3 linked regions of the Homo sapiens genome follow. The protein of the gene in region 3 purifies or fractionates together with the protein of the main gene of each other region. This does not show direct contact. Each region holds a gene or a part of one and is shown on either strand. Other genes may lie near its edges.

What was found. Proteins that work in one complex are often made in the same cells at the same time.
Region 1: the proteins of PPP2R2A (region 3) and PPME1 purify together in Homo sapiens (affinity purification with mass spectrometry; 3 studies listed by BioGRID and IntAct, with this or other methods). This does not show direct contact.
Region 2: the proteins of PPP2R2A (region 3) and PPP2CB purify together in Homo sapiens (affinity purification with mass spectrometry; 10 studies listed by BioGRID and IntAct, with this or other methods). This does not show direct contact.

Annotation. Positions count from the first base shown.
Region 1 is NC_000011.10:74,167,221-74,174,301, forward strand, and holds the start of PPME1 (protein phosphatase methylesterase 1), read left to right. Parts: upstream 1-4,068; 5' UTR 4,069-4,201; coding exon 4,202-4,302; intron 4,303-7,081. Other genes in the region: C2CD3 (C2 domain-containing protein 3), read right to left, coding at 1,124-1,393, 3,518-3,572. UniProt on the Homo sapiens protein: Demethylates proteins that have been reversibly carboxymethylated. Demethylates PPP2CB (in vitro) and PPP2CA. Binding to PPP2CA displaces the manganese ion and inactivates the enzyme.
Region 2 is NC_000008.11:30,809,806-30,816,895, reverse strand, and holds the start of PPP2CB (serine/threonine-protein phosphatase 2A catalytic subunit beta isoform), read left to right. Parts: upstream 1-4,077; 5' UTR 4,078-4,474; coding exon 4,475-4,576; intron 4,577-7,090.
Region 3 is NC_000008.11:26,357,484-26,364,508, forward strand, and holds part of PPP2R2A (serine/threonine-protein phosphatase 2A 55 kDa regulatory subunit B alpha isoform), read left to right. Parts: intron 1-2,685; coding exon 2,686-2,798; intron 2,799-3,490; coding exon 3,491-3,668; intron 3,669-5,200; coding exon 5,201-5,365; intron 5,366-6,237; coding exon 6,238-6,407; intron 6,408-7,025. UniProt on the Homo sapiens protein: Substrate-recognition subunit of protein phosphatase 2A (PP2A) that plays a key role in cell cycle by controlling mitosis entry and exit. Involved in chromosome clustering during late mitosis by mediating dephosphorylation of MKI67.

The DNA of each region.
Region 1 (7,081 bases), on a different chromosome or scaffold from region 3:
ATGTTAATAAATACCTTCTCTCTTATTGAATTTCTAATCACTCCTCATTTGTTATATTATATAAAAATACTACCTGAGGATTTAATTTTTAAGCTTACAGTACCAAGATTATTTATATCTTTTAATCGCACTTACTGCTTTTAACCTACTATTAATAACTAAACTTTTTTGTGAAGTTAGAGTTCGGGATCATTCTTATTAATTTTTTGGATTTTTTGTAAACCCCATGGTGCCTAAAACAATGTGTAGTATGTGCTAAACATATTTTTTGAATGACTGAATTACAGCATTTGTTCTTTACATGTTGATGTTTCAAAAATTTTTTCTCGAGAGAATGTAAGTTACTCAAGGACAAGTTAATCTTAACTCACCCCTGGCTCTCCAATATTCTGAGCCCAACCATGTTTACATGATAAATGCTCGAATTTTATTGACTTGAACTGAATTGACTTGATAAATAACCCCATCATCCAAAATGTATTTATGTGAAAGCTTGACCTGAATAAAGAAGTAACATAGTACACTCAGAATACTTTTCTTGTACAAAAATGAAGACATCTTGGCTTCTGGTTCCCTACAGAGGGATGCTTTCCATTTCTGAACATCTGTAATACTAACTCACTAAACCATTCATTTAGCATTTAGTATGTATTATCTTGTACTATTGGTAAATTTTACATCTATATCCTCTTTCCTTGAGTATAATGTAAACCCCAGAGTTGAGACTACAGTTATTACCTAAAAAAGCATGGTGTAGTGAAAAGAGCATGAGTTTTGGTGACAGACAGAAGTGGGTTCAAATCCTAATTCAGCCATTTATCAACTTTGTGACCTTAGAAAGTATTCATTTCATCTCTCCAACTTGTTTAATTGTCTATAAAACAGAGAAAATACCTATCTTTCAGGGTTATTGTAAGGATTAGAAGTAATACATTTCAAAACTGCTGGCACACAGTAACACTCAATAAATTTACAAAGAAAAATGTCTACTATAAAAACTCTTTGACTCTTCAATAATTAAGAATGCCCATATATGCTAGGTACACAACAACACTTATTGCTGACAATATAACCACATGCTTTGTATTACGTCTGCAGGTGCAATGATAAAACAATAACATACCTGTTAGATAAGAGGTAAACTGTTTTGGACCACAACGAATAGCGTAACGTGTAGTTGTTCTCACAGCTTTTGGTTCAGTCTGCAATGCATCCCTGGGACAAAAGAGGGTTCCATCTGATGTTTCTCCCCACCATCTCACTCGGACAAGTACACAAGTGGGAGGCTTTGCAATCTTCCATATGACTCTATTAACAGTAAGTTTTAGAAAACAGCGTAGCTGGCCTTCAACCAGAGGTGGCAGGCTTGTAGATGGAGAAATGTCACTTAAACCTGTAGAGGAATCCAAGAAAACTGAGTCAAAATTTAGACTAAATATAGAAAACATATAATATGCTTTTTGAATGAAAACAAACAGAACACTTTAGTCTTAAGTTCAGCAATTTATCACCACTTAGAAAGAAGGTTTATCCTACCCATTATTCTAATACATGAGAAGTAACTATCAAATCAGACCACCGAATAATCTATCTGGTCATGTAAGCCACTCTGATAACTAATTAGTATTTAAGGTTTGATTTGATTTACTCTAAGTTAAGAACATACCAACAAAGACACACTAATATAAACTTTTCTTTAGTTGAGTTACTATTTGAAAAATACAAATATCAGAAGTAGTTGACATTTTTCTAAGTATGGTTGAAATTTTTCTAAGTACAGTTGTTTTAATTATTGCAACATCTATGGTTTTTAAGATATGTAATCTTTATCTAACTCTCTTTTAAAAAAATCACTAACGATAAAACAGCAACAACTCCCTTCACTCACAAACGATTTAGACTATATCATACAACTCAGCATTTCAATGAAGAACGTCTTAAATTGTAACTTTTCTTTCCTGCCAAGATCACACAGTCAGTGAGGACACAGACTATCTAATCTTCAGATTCTGCCACTATTTTTAACACAGTGCTGGGTTCATATATTTATTGGCTTTAGTATTTATTGGGTTTCATAAAGACATTAAAGTGTAAACAAAGCAATTAATCATGACTTTCTAAAAAATTTTCCTTTAATGACCCTGATTGTCTTTCATTCATAGTACCTTTTCGGGAAAACTTAAAGGAGATTTAAGAAACCATTCCTATATTATTTATACCTTTTTTTTCCTTTGACTTTTCTTTGAGGAGTGGTTATGCCTCAAAGAAGAAAATATATGGAATGTATCAGATCAGGACTAATTATTTGGACTTCTAATGCAAACACCGCCTCTGCCCTCTATAGTGGAGAAAAGACCCACCATAATCCTTATGGATAGTTTCAACATAAAAATTATACACAGTTGTGTATACATTTCTACATATGGAAATGGTATAGCAAAAAGTGTATTCTGTTCTATGCTATGTTATATTATTTCTACTTTGACTTTCCGATTATCAACCAAACATGCTTAACTGTTTTGACACAGGGAGCACTAGTATGCTTCAGTCTCAGATCCTCCTATCTTTCCTGGCAGGAAAGTCAGTATCTCAAAACTGCCTTAGTAATCTTTAAACAGCTTGGATAAGAGTAATTCCCAGATTGTAGCTTCAGTCCTCAACCCAATGGCCTAATGTCCTATCACTGTTCCCAATACTTCTTTTCTCGCTAAACTGCCTACAATGCAAAAAGGCAGGGTCACCCACTGTCCTTTTTCCCTTCGAGGCAGTCTTGTAGAGATTCAATGTCAAGTTTCCTGATCTGCCCTGGGTTCCTAGGTTGACTGTTCTCACTGCAGCTAACATCCCCTACTCGGTGAGCTTGTGTCTCCTTGAGCTGCTAACCTGATGAGGACTCTCTGCTGCACACTCTTTCATGATCTCAGGTCCTTCAGGAGATCGTCATGCCCTTACCCCCACTCCAATCCTATCACACCTGTCATTCCCCACTCTTCCCGGCTCTATACTCTACAATTATTTTTCCCAACTCCTGCTCATAGTCAGCCCTTCATACTTCATTCATTCAACTAACATTTACCGAGTCCTGCTTTGTACTAATCCTTGGTCATTCAGTAATGTATAAAACGTGATTCTTGCCCACAATCACACAACAAATGATATAATCCCTTTGCCAATTTATGTTTCTTCCTGTCCCTGTGGACCTCGAAAGCTACACACACACATACATTTCACTTCGTTATCAAAACCAATCCCATCATTGTTTGTTCTTCTCCTCTACAGTCATCCTACCGGTAACCTTCATCTCATTAATCGCCTGTCTGTGGCCCCTACCCCAGCCCCTAATTCCTTTCTATTCTCTGGAGGGCCAATTGCCCTTCCTTTTAACCTTCTGGTTCCCTGGCTACTTCCTTCTTACGTCCCTTTTCTTGTTTATCCAGCGGGGGTGCGGGTCTCCCTAAAATTCCTTACACCCTGCTCTCCTATTACGCTTTCCTCAATCTTTGATCGCTCAGGTTACCTCTTTTTTTGCGCCCACGGCTGCCCCCAGACCCTTGGCCTTTTCGTTGTTTCATGATGAGCCCGAGCTCTTCTTCACCAGCTCAACTCCGTCTCCAGCACCTAAGCAGTATCCTCCCGCCATCCCTCCCCACGGCGCCTGCGTTCCCCGGCAACCGGCGCCGCTGGGCAGCCTGGGAGGCAGGAAAAAGCGACTCTTCCTCTAACAGTCTCCGGAAAACGGTGCGAAGAGAAGGCGCCAAGACGCCTTCCCTCCAATACACTACAATACCCAGGACGCTTTGCTACAATACCTCTCCGGGGTTGGCTGGGGGGCGCCTCCAGCTGCGCAAGCGCATAGGGATGCGCCCTTTGTGGACTCCATTGCGCAGGGTGCATTGCCCTGAAGAGCGCTCCTCCTTCCGGTGAAAGTCGTCGGGTTCCCAGCCGGGAGTCTGCGGAGTTCTCATACTCTGTTACCCAGCTTCCTTTGTATGAGTGCTGTTGCGCACTTCCGGTGGAAGCGCTGAAGCGAGTGGGTGGAGTTTACGGAGCCGGTGGGCGGTAGGCGGTGCTACGGGTAGCTGGGTGCTGTCCAAAGGCGACAGGGCGTCGTTAGGGGAGCGAGTCGTGACCGGTTGGGCCACACTCAACGTGGGACGAAGCTTCGCCTACTGTTTGACTACGTGCGTGCAGCCTCCCCTCGATGTCGGCCCTCGAAAAGAGCATGCACCTCGGCCGCCTTCCCTCTCGCCCACCTCTACCCGGCAGCGGGGGCAGTCAGAGCGGAGCCAAGATGCGAATGGGGTACGTGACCCATACCCCTTCTCCCTATGGGCCAGGCCCCAGCCGTTGGAGAATGGTATCTCTGGGCGTTCATAGAGGCACGGGAAAGGAGTCTACTGATAGGAGAAAATGTTGGCGGCCTGGAGATATTTAGATGGAGTAGAAGGCAGATTGGGGTACTAGGGGAGGCGCCAAGTCAATAGAAATTGGAGGAAAAATAACGTTGTTGAAGGGAGAGGGGAATGAGGCAAAGGTTGGGGAAGCTGAGAGACTAACATAAGGGATCTGAGAATCACTTCCACAATAAAGGAGGCTTAGAAAAGGGAGTAGAACGGTGACAAAGGTGGAGGAGAATCGGCCAGGGAAGGTGGAGGGAAGTGGGGAATGACTGAGAGAAAAGTTGAGGGGAATTGGGCCAACAACTAAGGAAAGGTTTGGGAGGAGTAGATATTATCAGAGTTCTAATATCTGCACTGTGAGAACTAGATACTAGAAAAGCTGAGGGGGGTAGAAAACACTCGAGACAGGGCTGGAGAAGGAAAGAGGAGAACTAGGAAGCAGACGATTCTAGAGAATTCCCAGAGGTGTAAAGACAGATTCAGCGAATGAGAGGTGAGATTAGGTCTCTTAAGGGAGAATGAGAAAGTTTAGGGAGTAGGCCTAAGGTAAGGTGGAGAACATAGCCACGAAGATTGTTAAGGGTAGTAGGAATGTGCTGAGAAGCTGGACAGGATAAGGGAGAGAGAAGAAGGAGAGGACTGAAGAATTTACAGAGTGAGAAGCTGGACAGGATAAGGGAGAGAGAAGAAGGAGAGAACTGAAGAATTTACAGAGTGACCATAGGCTCTAAAGATTGAGAGATGACTATAAATACGGTTTGGTGAATGGAAGTGCTGCAGTTGTAAGGTCTGGGAAGCTTAGAGGAAGATTTGGGCAATCAGTTTTTGCTGGGCTAGTAGATCTGAGGGAAGCGACGTACTGGCCTAAGACTTTGAATTAGTGAAGCATTGGGAGTTCGAGAAATAGTTTGCTGGAAAGGAAGGAGAGCCATGTAGAAGAGATAGGTTTTGGAATTTTAGATCGTTAAATGGCTTGTGCCAGGTTAGGGGATACTTGGGCCGAGGAGAAAGAATGAGGTGAACATGGGAGAAGTAATTGCTGGAAAGTGGAGAGAATTGAATAGGCATTTGGTTTTGAGGGGATATTTGTAGTTTCAAACAGGATTCTGGGAATTAGTGACTGTAAAGAGAAAAGGAGTAGGAAAGATACTTAGGTATGAGGGCTCCAGAGTATATTTGGGATTCTAGAGATGAATTGGTAGATATTCTTTGAAAAAGGACTACAGAAGAGAAACCTTAGGTTCTGAAGAAGTAATATGTGTAAAAACTTATCAAAAAGGAGGCGAGAGTAGGAGATGCAGTACTGTGACAGTAAGTCCTAGGGATGAAAAGAAAGGAGAATCCTATAAAACAGTGGGGTAAAGGAATGGGAAAAATGGGTGGAAAAACCAGGGAAGGAAACTAAGAATTGAGTGGAGACCTGCTATGATACGCAGTAGAAAAATGAGAAAACTTTAGCAGGAGGAGATAGAGAGATAGACGCACAATAGAGGTAGAAGGCTACATAGAAGGTAAAGTGAAGATTGTTTTGGCTTTGGAAGACAGAAAAGTTGGACTATAACATGAATAAAGAGAATTTGGAAACTGACCCATAACATTATTTGGGAAAACTAACCTGGAGTTTAATATTAATGTAACATTAATTGTTGTTAAATATCTTAGTTGCTGCCTTTCTTAAAATAAATTTGATTTTTCAGTATACCAGCACCCTTCTATACAAATACATAAGAAAATCAGATTTTTAATAATTATACATTCCTTAGATAAGCTTAATTAGAGCTCAGCTTCTCATCTTGGAGAAACAAGTTCTCTGAAGATTGAAGAACTGAATGAAGATACTGAGAGAAAAAAAAAGGAAAATCTGCTGATTAGAAGATTGTATAATTGTTAGTAATTTATCGTTTTTATTTTTTATTACTTTTCATTTTATTTTTTTTTAGAGACAGAGTCTCACTCTGTTGCCCAGGCTAGAGTGCAGTGGCACAATCTCGGCTCACTGCAACTTCCACCTCCCGGGCTCAAGTGATTCTTGTGCCTCAGCCTCCCAAGTAGCTGGGATTACAGGCATGCACCACCACGCCCGGCTAATTTTTGTATTTTTAGTAGAGAGGGGATTTCGCCATGTTGGCCAGGCTGGTCTTAAACTCCTGGCCTTAAGTGATCTGCCCCACTTGGCTTCCCAAAGTACTGGGATTATAGGAGTGAGCTACTGTGCCTGGACAACTTACCTTTTTAAAAAGATGCTTTGGTCTTCTTGGTTTAGGTTAACTGCTTATCCTGGAAAAGAAAGTTCTTTAGAAAGGCCTTTCTTTATGATAGTATTGTGAAGAGAAGAGCATATATTGGCGAATATTTGTGTGGTCCTCAAATGGCTTATTTTCCCGTATCTTTCTTTTCTACTTTATTGGTATATAAGCAGGCTTCATCTAAGTCTCATGGTAGTAATAATATAGATTCTCTTTCTCCTTAGAATCATAAAGCTGAGAGAAAGCATAGACATGGTCTCATTTCACCACTTCATGTAGTTGAGGAACCCAATATTCAGAGAGTTCTGTATTCTATAAGGGAATGTATTAATAAATGAGGGAACTGAGACTCAGATATTCCTAAGGTACCCTAGAAGCTTAGCGGTAGGGCCGTTAAGGACTAGGACTTGGGTCTCTTGACTGTGAGACCCATTG
Region 2 (7,090 bases), 4.5 Mb from region 3:
AACTACGTTTTTGGGCAGAAGGGTGAGAATAGAGGATGAGAACTATGATCTTTTTATTGATCATGATTTGTTGTTTTTAAATGCAAAGAAAGCATTTCCAATTTGATTTTTTCTATATTAATTTTAATTTTTGTAATCATTATCAATAGATATTCTTATGCAGAATTCCCTGTGACAATTTTGATAATATCATATTCACATTCTAAGTATCAGAAGGTATTTGAACTGGAAATGAAAGTATTTCTTTAATCATTTGAGGATTACAGTGATATAGGAGAATCATTTTTAGACCCATACAATGTATAATTGTAGCATATAATTATGTGGATACATTACAAGATATAAATGATTCATATTTCATATTTTAAATGGTATATAATACATTAGGAAAAATATCAATGTTTATATATTTTAAAAGAGCCTAGTCAATTAAGTAGGAAGAAAATCTCACATGTACTTTTAAGGCAAATAATCTGTGGAAGATTTCTTTTTAATTATTTAACCAAAAGGAGAGAGGTAAACAGAATAACAATAAGAAAACCTCTAGGTCAAAAAAGAAAATTAGATCTGGCCTATAAACCTAAGATTAAATGCAGTTTGGCATGACAAGTAATTTAGCAAGGATTGGAGGTTGATGGTTATGTTCTGAAGGAGAACACACACACACAGACACACACACAAACACACACGTCTGACAGAAGCAGAAAGCAAAAAAGAAATAAGTTTAAGAATTATTGTTCTTCCAGACTGGCCCACATGTTGAAACCCTGTCTTTACTAAAAATACAAAAATTAGCCGGGTGGTAGTGGCATGCACCTGTAATCCCAGCTACTTGGGAGGCTGAGGCAGGAGAATCGCTTGAGCCTGGGAGGTGGAGGTTGCAGTGAGCCAAGATCGTACCACTGTGCTCCAGTCTGGGTGGCAGAGTGAGACCCTATCTCAAAAAAAAAAAAAAAAAAGAATTATTGTTCTTATTTATAATTAAGAGACCGTCACAACCAAAATAGCAAAAACTGATATTGTAAGTCATCAAGCCCCTTGGCCAATCTACCATTCTTGGGCTTTCCATGTTCCCATCCACACTGCAGGGACCATAGAACATAAAGCATGGAGTAGAACTCATATGTGAGTGTTAATCTGTACCCCACCAGTACTATCTGTGTGACTTGAACATGTATTTAAACCTCTACCTGTCTTTCTTTTCATCTGTAATATGGAAAGTATAATAACACCAGCCTCATGAGGTTACTGGAGCATTAAATGAGAAGCTACATGTAAAAACATTAGTATATAGGAACTACTCAAAGAAAGTATTCTTCTTTGTTCTACATCACTACTTGACTAAACTTCTTAGAAGTACTATTTTCACAAACACCTACTCACCTCTAAGAATATTCTCTCACATTCATTTCAAACACATTTGCTTCTATTTCAAGGACCTCCCTCCCTAACTACCATCCACAGTTCCCACTTGCCCTCAGGGTATATTTTGTTTTCAGTCCATCTTCTCTAGGAACCCTGAACATATTCTCATTCTCACTTTTGTTCCGAGCTTTCCAAGCTTAGCCGAAAATCAGCTTCCTTTTTTATGTATGTATTGAGACAGGATCTCACTTGTTGCCCAGGCTGGAGTTACGGTGGTGCAATCTTGGCTCACTGCAACTTCCGCCTCCTGGGCTCAAATGATCCTCCCACCTCAGCCTCCTGAGTAGCTGGGACTACAGGCATGCGCCACCATGCCCGGCTAATTTTCCGTAGAGACAGGGTTTCACCATATTGCCCAGGCTGGTCTTGAACTCCTGAGCTCAAGTGATCCTCCCACCTCAGCCTCCTAAGGGCTAGGATTACAGGTGTGAGCCACTGCACCTGGCCCAGCCTCCTTTAAAGCCTTATAGACTAACCTCCTCAGAGAATGTAATATCTATTGCAATGATATCTCACCAGTATTGTTTCATCACCTTTTGTGTTTTGTTCAACTGGTTTGCTGCTATTTACAAGCTGTTGAGAGCAGGAGCTCTTCCAGCCTTATTTCCAACAATATAATCTATTTCTGTTGCTAGGAGAATTTATAGCTTTCCAAACAGACAATGAATGGTCTTTCACTCATTTGTCTACTGGCACACGCACAAAAAAATTCCTTAGACCTTCTTTCCTCTTCTCCAGGCAACTTCAAGCTTTTGCCTTGAGAGAAGGTTGAAAATTCAGTTCAATTACCGCTTTTCTAAAGCTTTCTGTAATTGTTCCCTAGGAGGGGTAAGGCAACTAACATATCGCTCCCATACCGTACTATTGGGCAGGCACTTTTAAAACTTAATCTTCACAAAGGTAGGCCTTTTATTGATTTTAACAGATGAAGAATTTGAGGCTTACGGAGGTTTGATGATTGCCCAAGGACATAGCTAGGGGGTTAGCAAACACAAGAACCCTTGCTTTCTGATACAGGATGTTACCTTCCACTTGGGTTCAGCCGCAGTAGTATGTACCTTTAATAGACACAGTATGATCATTTAGCACATGCTATTCAAGGTATCTGGCAGCTAGCAGCTGCTCATGTTACCTAACTGAATTTAGGTCCTCCCTCAAGTACGGCAAAGCCAAACACTGACATTGGGGTTTGTAGTGAAAGTGAGGCATTTATTGCATTGCACCAAGCAAGAAGAATCAGGCAGCTCATGCTTAAGACCCCAACTCCCTGATGGTTTACAGGTAAGGGGTTTTTTGTGTGCTTTTTTTTTTTTTTTTGAAACAGAGTTTCACTCTTGTCACCCATGCTGGAGTGCAATGGCGAGATTTCGGCTCACTGCAACCTCCACCTCCCGATTTCAAGTGATTCATCTGCCTCAGCCTCCCAAGTAGCCGGGATTACAGGCGCCCACCACCATGCCCAGCTAGTTTTTGTATTTTTAGTAGAGAAGGGGTTTCACCATGTTGGCAGGCTGGTCTCCAACTCCTGGCCTCGGCCTCCCAAAGTGCTGGGATTACAGGCATGAGCCACTGCGCCCAGCCCAGGTAAGGATTTTTAAAGGCAGGGAGGCAGAGGTTACAGGCAAAGTCATAAATCAATACATGGAGGCTATACGTGGGTTTGATCTAAAAAGCCAGGATATCTGAAGCAGGGACCCACAGGTCATAGATGGATTCAAAGATTTTCTGATTTGCAATTGGTTAAGGAGGCAAAGCTTTGTGAATTCTTCCAGGCTCCTCAGGAAGAAATTTAGAACAAAGATAGGTAGTTTGAGATCTCCATGCCAGTGGACACCATTTTCCATTTGGTGAGGTCCAGGTTTCTGAAAAACAACTCAGGGACATATGTCGTCTTTAGTTTCTATAGGGAAGCAAACATTTTGTGAATCTAACGTCCTTGGCTACTGTCTTAAGCTATTATTACCTTCTTGCTTATCAGGTTGCTCATTGACTTATTGAGGAAGTTAGGTGCCTGGAATGTCCCTTCAGGGAACTCAAGATTTTCCTTTATTTCCATGCTTGGGGAGGGGGGTGCCTAGATGGCCCCTAAGAGGGGTCCCTGTTCTGTCTCTCAATAAATATTTGTTGAATGAACAAATCATTACAACTCAGTACACATTGCAGAAAATATAGCCAAGAGCTCTGGAGCTGGAAGGGCCACAGATTATCCTACAGAACAATCATTTCACTTTTCTAATGTCGAAAGGGAGGATTCGAGATGTTAGGGGCTACAGGTGAGGCTGGAAATAATTAATTTACTCCATCAATATTGAATGCCTGCTATTGAGTGCTAGACTCTGGGGAGACAATGTTAAGGGAAGCCCAAGTTTTCCAACTCCCTGTCCAGAGCGCTGCAAAGTACTGCAGGAAGCTAAAGTGAGGACAAAGTTCCCAGAGATCAGGATATTTAAAGGGAGAACCAGCAGAGCTTGGTCTGGGGCAGGGTGGGGAAAAGAGGGACCCTGGCCTCCTCGGACCGTTTCTCCGCCAAGCCACGCGAGGGCGCTGTTCTGCTCCTAGGGCGCCGTGTCCCGGCGGCGCCGCCTGCTCGCCTTTTCCCGGCGGAAATGCCCGAGCGATGACGGAAACCCGGAGGGAGGGGAGAGAAAGAGCGAGAGAAGGGGAAAGACAAGTCGGGAGAGGCCGGTAGGCGTGAGGCGGGCCTGAAGCGGCAGCGGGCGGCCTTCGTCCGGCGAGAGCTAGGCCGAGGACCCGCGCCGCGCTCCCCGGCACCTCACCGCGTCCTTCACCGACTCCCGCGGCGCGCGGCCGGGCGGGGAAGGGCGGGCGGGGGTCTCCTCCAGGCTGCGCGCTCGGAGCCGCCTGCTGGGCTTGGGCGGGGCGCGGGGCCCGCGGCCGCCCTACCCGGCTCAGTCCTCCCCCTGTGGGACCTGGCGACGGCGGCGGAGGGAGAGGGGAGCGGCGCCCGGGCCGGGGCCGGGGGCGGGTGGGGAGGGGGGAGGGCGGCGGCCGGGCTGGGGCTCGGGATCCGCATCGGGATCGGGCCGCCATGGACGACAAGGCGTTCACCAAGGAGCTGGACCAGTGGGTCGAGCAGCTGAACGAGTGTAAGCAGCTGAACGAGAACCAAGTGCGGACGCTGTGCGAGAAGGTGAGGGCGCCGCGGGGGCGAGTGCGGGAGCGCGGGGCTGGGACGGGCCGCCGCTTTCCTGCCCGCCCCGGTCCCGTCCGCCCCTGGCCCGGCGCGGCCCACCGGGGGCCTGCGGGGCTGTGGGTCCGGCTCCGGCGTCCACCTAGGCGGCCGGCCCATCGGTTCAGGGCCCGGGGCGTTGGGCTGCCCTCGCCTGCCCCTTCCACCTCCGCCTCACGCCCCCGGCCGGCTGCCCAGATCCCGGGCGTGGGGGGCTCGGGTGCGGACGGGCGGGGAAACGTAGCCCCCTGAGCCAAGCAGGAGGTTGGTCGGGGTCGCCTGCGCTCCACTGGGGAGTTCCTGCCACTCTAGCATTTCCCGAGTGGACTAGCGAGAGCGACGTCCGAAAAGGACCATTTTCAGACCAGTTTCTGAAAATGCAACTAAAATTAACCAGAATGTCGTGCGTATTAATGAACTTGTTAATAAATGCAGAATTTTTGTCAGGTGAACGGGGCACCTCAGAAATCACTAACTCAAGCCGGGCGTGGTGGCTCACGCCTGTGGCCACAGCTACTCGGGAGGCTGAAGCGGGAGGATTGCTTGAGCCCAGGAGTTAGAGACCAGCCTGGGCAACATAGTGAGGCCCCGTCTCCACACACAAAAAATTTTTTTTAATTAGCAGGGTGTGACGGCGGGTGCCTGTAATCCCAGCTATTCGGGAGGCTGAGGCGGGAGGATCGCTTGAGCCCAGGAGGTGGAGGCTGGTTGCAGTGAGTCGAGATCGCGCCACTGCACTCCAGCCTGGGCGACAGCAAAAAAAAAAAAAAAAAAATCGCTGATTCTTGAATGTGCCAAGCGTTTGTTTGCGGAGAGGTAGGCGTGATGGCCAACTGTGATTTTTAAAATAGAGGTTGACTTTGGTGGAAACAGATGGTGACTGGTCTTTGTGTTGAGTGGCTCTTGGAAGTAAAGTGTTGATTTTCAGAAACGAGAGCCGATCTTAAGTTTGGGAACAGTGTTTGCTGGAAATGATAAGTGGGATGTGTGTTTTCATGCACGATAGCACTTTGCAGAAAGTTATTTTTGTTTTTAATATATATAAAGTTTTTTTCCAAAGAATAATAAAACATGCGGGTGATCAGTTCGTTCTTGTACATCGTGAGTGTGTGATCTTCACTTTGTAAATTCTGTATCCATTGTTTTCTTAACCCCTGAAATTATTTCGATCTCTCCATCTTTGAAGTCTAGAGTTGTCCACATTCATCCTTTACAAGGTGGACTAAATAATTTTCATGTATTTTTAGGTTAAAAATTCTCACTTGAAGTGCATGAAGAAGTAACGATGTTATTTTAAAACGTAATCTATAAAATTTTCTTAACCGTAATGTTTAGAAGTCATGATGTGGCAGAAGTGCACTGGAGAAGGAAAGATTTTGTTAGTCTGATTTTAGGGTACTCTTAAGATCATGAAATTTACTTAGAAAAGGAGCACTAATAGATGGTGTTAAGTTACAATATTTTTAACGGGTGTAATGTTGGTCGGGGCCTTTGTGTATTAAGTAACTATTTGTTAACACAGGAGGATTTATTTTTGTAAATAGAAGTGCCAAGCAAGTGGTATTTTTCTCTTTCTGAAACAAACTGCTTACTTGTGGCTTCAGTTGACATTCATTTTTATTGTGATAACCTGTAATTTCATGAGTCTTAAAATTTATGCCTTAAACATCTCTCTCCAGCTCTAATGCGAAGTGAAATGTACAGGTTTGAAATGATCTGAGTCAGTTAACCTGACTATGAGCATCAGAATACAGACTTGAAGTTATGGGTAAAGTGTTAGTTGAATCAGTTTTTCCCATTGACTTCCTTTTTTTGTTTTATTTTTGTTTTGAGACAGAGGCTCAGTCTGTCGCCCAGACTGGAGCGCAGTGGTGCCGTCTCTGTTCACTGCAACCTCCACCTCCGGGGTTCGAGGGATCCTCCTGCCTCAGCCTCCCGAGTAACTGGGATTACAGGTGCATGCAGCCATGCACTGCTAATTTTTGTATTTCTAGTAGAGATGGGGTTTTGCCATGCTGGCCAGGCTGGTCTAGAACTCCTGGCCTGAAGTGATCCCTCAGCCTTCCAAAGTGCTGGGATTACAGGCGCGAGCCTCGTGCACAGCCCCTATTGACTTTCTAATAATTTTAAGATGAACTTCTAGAGAAGAATATTGTACCACTGCTGTACTTTGAAATAATCACACCGGAGTGTCAACGATCACTTGAGGAAGCTTTCTGTATTTGTCAAAAGAGATTATTTTTACTTCGGCTCCTAAATAAATCAGACTAACAGTTCCTAGGACTTCACAGGTATATTTAAGATTATCTCTTGTATCTTACTAGCCTTTTTTGGGGGCGGGGGGGGGACGCAGTCTTGGTGTGTCAGTCAGGCTGGAGTGCAGTGGGGCAATCACCGCTCACTGCAACCTCAACTTCTGGGGCATAAGGGACCCTCCCACTTCAGCCTCTCAAGTAGCTGGGACCACAGGCATGT
Region 3 (7,025 bases):
AGTTAATTTAATGTTCCTTCAAGCATTTTAATTCTCTTTCTCTTTAATCTTCTTTTGCTCCTCTGAATTCTCATTAATTCCTCTACATTGCAGAAAACATGAAACTGACCTGTCAACCATGAGTGTTACATATATGAATAATGTAAAGTTCACTCATAAATAGGGTGTGTCTTAACAACTTCTTGATAAGTTTTTTAGGGTCTTACATAAAGCTGCATTCCCACAAAGGAAACGGCAGCGTGGTTTTCCCTGCTCATACCTCTCATACCTTCTGCTTGTGGTGAGAGGAACTCTGTTCTTCTGCAGTTTCTCCAATGCTTTAGTTATTAGTGTTGATAATTCAGGGGAACACCACAGTGTGGTCGTTTTGGAAGGAACAGATCTTGAGAATCTAATAACGTCTCCACTGAAAACTGTGTTTTTACATAATCTCACATACAGTTTTATGGAGTTTGATTATTCTCACATACTTTGTCTTATGGGCCAAAAACTCCAGGTAATAAAATATCACTGCTGTAGAACATAAGGATTCTGATTTTTTAAAAATTTATGTCATATTTATTAACATACTGATTTATTTCCTGCCTGCCTTGTCCCCACCTTACTGAAAAATGTATCCTAATTCATATGTGTCCTGTGTTTGTGTTAAGGAAAAAACATTTTTTAAAGAGCTTTCTTCCTGTAAACACTATTAGGCACCACAAACTAATTTTATCTCATCTGAAAGTTTCATAAATACATTGTGGTTTCTTTATTTGGATCTTTAATAAGGAGGATGGATTTAAACAGGCCACAAGACAACTGGACCAGGGGGCGGGGGTGTTGTCATCCTCATCACAAATACTTTGCAAGTATTTAGAACAAATACTTCTCAGAATACAGATTTAGGCTAGGCTCATATCTATCTATAAATCATATACATATATAAACTAAATAACACATAGAAAATCTGTATGACTGAACTACAAGAAAATTATAAGCAAGGTCACATAGGGCTTAGAAGAAATAATAGATTACAGATGATTAAAGTTAGCAGTTTTTCTCTGTTTACACTTCATCATTGGGAAGGGCATCCTTAGGGGCAACTATCATTCTTCTGTACGATACAGAGACTGCCAGGCTAGAGTCACTGGCATCTCTCTGAGTTGTTTCTGTTTTTATAAAATGGCTTTATATACTGTTATAAACAATTTTGTTACACCATTTTGCTTATGAAAGATCGTTAGGAATGTATGCTTTTCTATAAGAAAAACTGTTATACAATTGTAACAGTTTTAAATCAACATGCATGAGCCTATAGTGATACAAATAAACAATTGAATGGATACATGGAGAGCAGGGATGCTTCCTGCAGGAGAATTCTAAATAAGACGTGGATACATACTCTTCCCTACAGGGAGTATAACTTATTTCTCCCTTTAAGTACAGGCTGGATTTAGTGACTCACTTCCAAAGAACAGAATATGGCAAGGGTGAAAGAGTCATTGTATAGTGGAGAAGCCTGGCAAACATTGTCTTAACCAAATGACCCAAGTTAACGCCACCAGCTGTAAGTCATGTTGATACCATGTATCCCTTTGAACAATGCTGTGAGAAGTCACTTCATCTCTCTGTTCTGTTCCTAAAAACCCATGGTCCCAGTCTGATCATGAGGAAAGAGCAAGCAAATCCAGTTGAGGGATATTCTACAAAGTACCTCACCACCACTACTCAAAACTGTCAAGATCAAGAAAAATAAGGAGAGCCTGAGAAACTTAAAGGCAGAGAGACTAAGGAAACTTGATGACTAAATGCAGTGTTGTTTGAATTCTGGAGCAGAAAAGGAATGTTAGTGGAAAACCTGGTTAAATCTCCAAATGCAGTCTGTAGTTAATAGTAATATACAAAGTCGACGTCTTAGTTTTGACACACGTACCATGGTTGCGTAAGATGTTGACAGAAGAAACTGGGTAAAGGATATATGGAACACTGCAATTCTTGTAACTTTCTGTAAATCTAAACTTAATTGTAAAACAAAAGTTTGTTTTTAAACAGATGCCATTTTATATATCCTTGATACCTAGGAATTTGGTTTCTTCTTGAAGGACTTGGGGATGTATGCTTTTAATCAGTTTTCTTCAGGCCCTGTTTCCTACTTGTGAACCCTGATACAAGAAGGGGAAAGGTTTTAAAAAGGAGGCATCCAGTCCTATGGAGGCCTCTGTGGAATCTTTGATAGGCTCTGCTAAGAAGTGGGAGCAAGGGAGAGCAGCTTTACTATTTTGATTCTACATAATAGGCAGTCTTAATCAACTTCATTGTTCCCTTTAAATTTTTTAAAATTCAGTACTGAACATGTATATGTTTACATGTAGGTACAGACATATATGTGTTTGCATACACCACACATGCATATCAAGTTTTTCCCTCTAGCTTTAATTACTTTTAAGGGACAGGGATAGAGACCTGTCTGTGACTTGATTTGACTATCACATGGAATTTATGAGTGCCACCAATCTTTGCACTTTATTTCCATGTGTGTATGTTATTCAGCTGATAATAGGAAATTTTTTAGTAAGTTCAGATTAGGGTTTTTTTTTTTTTCGTGGAATCCTTTTACGTGAAATGTGAAATAGCATATTTTAAATGCCTTAAAATGTTTTTCTTCTTCAGTATTTTAAGGACTTTTCTTTATTTTCTTCCCAGATAAAACAATAAAATTATGGAAAATCAGTGAAAGGGACAAAAGACCAGAAGGGTATAACTTGAAAGAGGAGGATGGAAGGTATAGAGATCCTACTACAGTTACTACACTACGAGTAAGTACATAAGAAAAAAATGTCACAGATAGTGCTTGTATTCATATTATATAGCCCAAATCCTGAGCAGAGCTTGAATAGGAATAATTACAGTCTATCTCCCCTTTCCCAGTAATTCTGTAATCAGGTAGGACATTGAGTAACTCATTTAAACATAGAAACTGACCTACATAGAGGTCTCACTTTGGCCAGGGACAGAAGCAGGACTCAAGCACAAGACAGTATTTCACGCCATCAGACTTCATCTCTGGTTTGTCATGTTAGCTATCACAAGGTCAAGTTTCAAGATAAATTTTCTTTGGAAATCAAAAAAGTAGATACAGATCAAATCTTCTAGTTGTAGCTAAAAAATACCAAGAATTAGATGTTATGGGTTAATTTTCTTTTTAGCCTCTTTAATCTGAACCATAAACATTTATTAGCTTGGCATGTCTTTCAAGCAAAATATTGAAACTAAGAACTGCAAATTCTAATAGTATTGCAACCAGTAAAAGAAGATATATTATCCACATTGTTCATTTTTTCTTCAGCACTCGAAAGGATCAACATCAGTTGCTTTTTAAAACTAAATCTATGTAATATTGTTCTATTTTATGTTCTCAAAAACTGAAATAATGAAGTTTTCTGAATCTTAATTGCTATTTGAAACTGAGCCTTTTGTAATTTCTGTTTTTCATGTGTCTTATTGACAGGTGCCAGTCTTTAGGCCTATGGATCTAATGGTTGAGGCCAGTCCACGAAGAATATTTGCCAATGCTCATACATATCACATCAACTCAATTTCTATTAATAGTGATTATGAAACATATTTATCTGCAGATGATTTGCGGATTAATCTTTGGCATCTGGAAATTACAGACAGGAGTTTTAGTATCCATTTGGTTTTCTTTGGTGTTTGGTGAAGAAGGCATGTTGTGCCCATATTAGATTTATTTCATCTCTCCTAATGAATTTGGTTGCTTTTTATAGTCTGTGTACATATATGTATGGCACCTTATTTTTTTCTTTGTAGATGAGTAATGAAATACTGGAAAAAGTTATTTGCTAAACATAAAGGGCATAATGTATTGATTTAAAATTGGATTCATGGAATTTTAAGGAATTTGTCTATTGTATCTATGTAAATAGGATTATTTTTTATAATTTAGGTTTTTGTTTTAAAAATCACATTTGTGAGGTCTGTGTATGGTAGCTTATGCCTGTAATCCCAGCGGTTTGGGAGGCTGAGGTGGGAAGATCACTTGAGGCCAGGAGTTCAAGGTTTACAGTGAGCTTGATTGTGCCTCTGCACTCCAGCTTGGATGACAGAGCAACACCCTGTCTCTAAAAAAATTTTTTTTCTTCTAATCAAATGTATGAACTACTGTATTTGAATTTTTTATTGTAAAAATAGTCTCACCTGGCTGCGGTGACTCAGCCTGTAATCCCAGCACTTTGGGAGGTCAAGGTGGGTGGATCACCTAAGGTCAGTAGTTCAAAACCAGCCTGGCCAACATAGTGAAACCCCGTCTCTCCTAAAAATACAAAACATTAGCCGGGCATGGTGGCGCATGCCTGTAATCTAAGCTACATGGGAGGCTGAGTTAGGAGAATTGCTTGAACCTGGGAGATAGAGGTTGCAGTGAGCTGAGATTGTGCCATTGCACTCCAGCCTGGGCAACAAGAGTGAAACTCTGTCTCAAAAAATATATATATATAGATTTATATATATTATATTAATTGATATTAAGATTAGATTAAGATTAGATTAAGATTAATCTTAAGATTAGATTAAGATTAATTTTAAGATTAGAAAAAGATTAATAATTAGATTAGATTAGAAAAAGATTAGAAAAAGAAAGATTAAAGATTACGATTAGATTAAGATTAGAAAAAGAAATTCACGCAAGTCATGATGCATGATTGGGTAAATAAAAATATTCTATTGAGGCCGGGCACAGTGACTCATGCCTGTAATCCCAGCACTTTGGGAGGCTGAGGCGAGGCGGATGGATCATGAGGTCAGGAGGTCGAGACCAGCCTGGCCAACATAGTGAAACCCCGTCTCTACTAAAAATACAAAAAAAAAAAAAAATTAGTCAGTTGTAGTGGTGTGCGCCTGTAATCCCAGCTTTTCTGGAGACTGATGCAGTAGAATCGCTTGAACCTGGGAGTCGGAGGCTGCAGTGAGCCGAGATTGCGCCACTGCACTCCAGCCTGGGTGACAGAGTGAAACTCCGTCTAAATAAAAATTAAAAAAAAAAGTTTTAATCCCTTTGGAATTTATACTCATAAAAACAGTGGAGTGCAATTCAGAATTAATATTTTTGCTTAGGTCCATGAATGGGTTTTAGGTTTGAGAAATGTAGAATTATATTTGCCCTTTTTTCTAAGTGGAAATTCCTTAATAAAATGTTATCTAGACATTGTGGATATCAAGCCTGCCAATATGGAAGAGCTAACAGAGGTGATTACAGCAGCAGAATTTCATCCAAACAGCTGTAACACATTTGTATACAGCAGCAGTAAAGGAACTATTCGGCTATGTGACATGAGGGCATCTGCCCTCTGTGATAGACATTCTAAATGTAAGTTTATTGTATCTTTCCTTAAAATGATTACATATTCTGTTTGTCTGAAATAAGCCTCAGACATGATAAGTACAATTACAGAGGTTCAAAGTCTTAAACCCGTGTGTCCAGAGCCACTTGTACCCTTGGTAATCTGCCTACCTCCTCATGAGGCATTCCAGGTTATTCCTGGAAGCTCTCTTGGGGGGCATGTCTATTGATTGCCAAGGAATATATCTCTCATGGAATGCTGTTGTTCTTTGGTAACTTGCGGTTGGGCTCTGTAACCTTGTATTGAAGTAGAGCTGTTCCTTTCTTTCCCATCCTCCCTTCCTACTTTGAGCTTCCTAGGAAGATTTCTTCTGAGGTTTCCTTGGCTTAAAAAAAAAAAAAAAAAAACAACTTTGGTTTAAAAACTTCAGGATACAATATTCTTGTCTTGTTGAATATTAACTCATGAAAATTGATACATGCCTGTTACCAAAATAATTTTACCTGGCTACTAGAAAATAAGATCCTGGTATGAATTTGGGATGGGCGAGGATGGTGTGTTTCTCATGGTGATGATACAGGCAGTCAGTGAGGCATATTGCAGGAATAATACCAATAAACCTGGTGCACTGAAGTCAGAAGTCCCAGGTGAGTCTGGTTCTAAATTAGTCATATGACTGGAAGTATACTGCATACTTATGCATCTTCAACTTCAATATTCAATTAAACTAAGAAGCTTTCAGGAGAATTCTAGCCAGAGAGATGTTTTTCAGTTCTTTATTAGCCTGGCATTTTACCTCACTTGTAGGGAGTTTGTGAATGGTTGTTTAGGAAATGCTTTGTCCAAGCCAGAATATTGTACACCTTGCCCTTTTTGTGTTGTTTTGTTTTGTTTTTAGTGTTTGAAGAACCTGAAGATCCCAGTAACAGGTCATTTTTTTCCGAAATCATCTCCTCTATTTCGGATGTAAAATTCAGCCATAGTGGTCGATATATGATGACTAGAGACTATTTGTCAGTCAAAATTTGGGACTTAAATATGGAAAACAGGCCTGTGGAAACATACCAGGTATTTGAGTTTTTTCTTTCAATGAGCATATACCCTGTTTACTTTGAAGTGTTTATAGAGAAGGATTTTGTTACTAGGTTTTAATCCCTGTATGGTGTTTGTTCACCATTAGGCCTTTTCCCTCAGAGATCTATGAGTATGTTGCTCTTCCTTATGTTAAATGTATATATACTTACATAGGTTGTGTTGTCTCTTGAGTTTTGCAGTTAAAGTGTGATTTTGCTACCCATTTGGTTCAGTATTGACATTGTTTTTTTTTCTGCCACTATGTACATTTAAAGTGAGGATGGAAGAGCACCCTTCATTGAGGTCTGGGCAGGAAGAGGATTGGAGAAAGTGGCCAGTCCTTAGTAGAGGTGCACCTGCTCAGGTTGTGGGAGTAGTTGAACTAGAGATTAAATTTGGTGTGCCAAGTCAAATGGACTGGTGTTCTGCCTTTTGGCAGATAACTGTTGTCTTCAGCTAAAAGAAAGGGCTTGAAAGCCTTAGCAGATGGCTTTAGGAGTTGCCTATCCGTTGTTGGATGTCAGTTCTTGATTCTCTTATCAGCCAGCCACTACTGTTTATCCGTGTCCACTACATCAAACAGAAGAGAATGAAGTACACAGCCTGGAACAG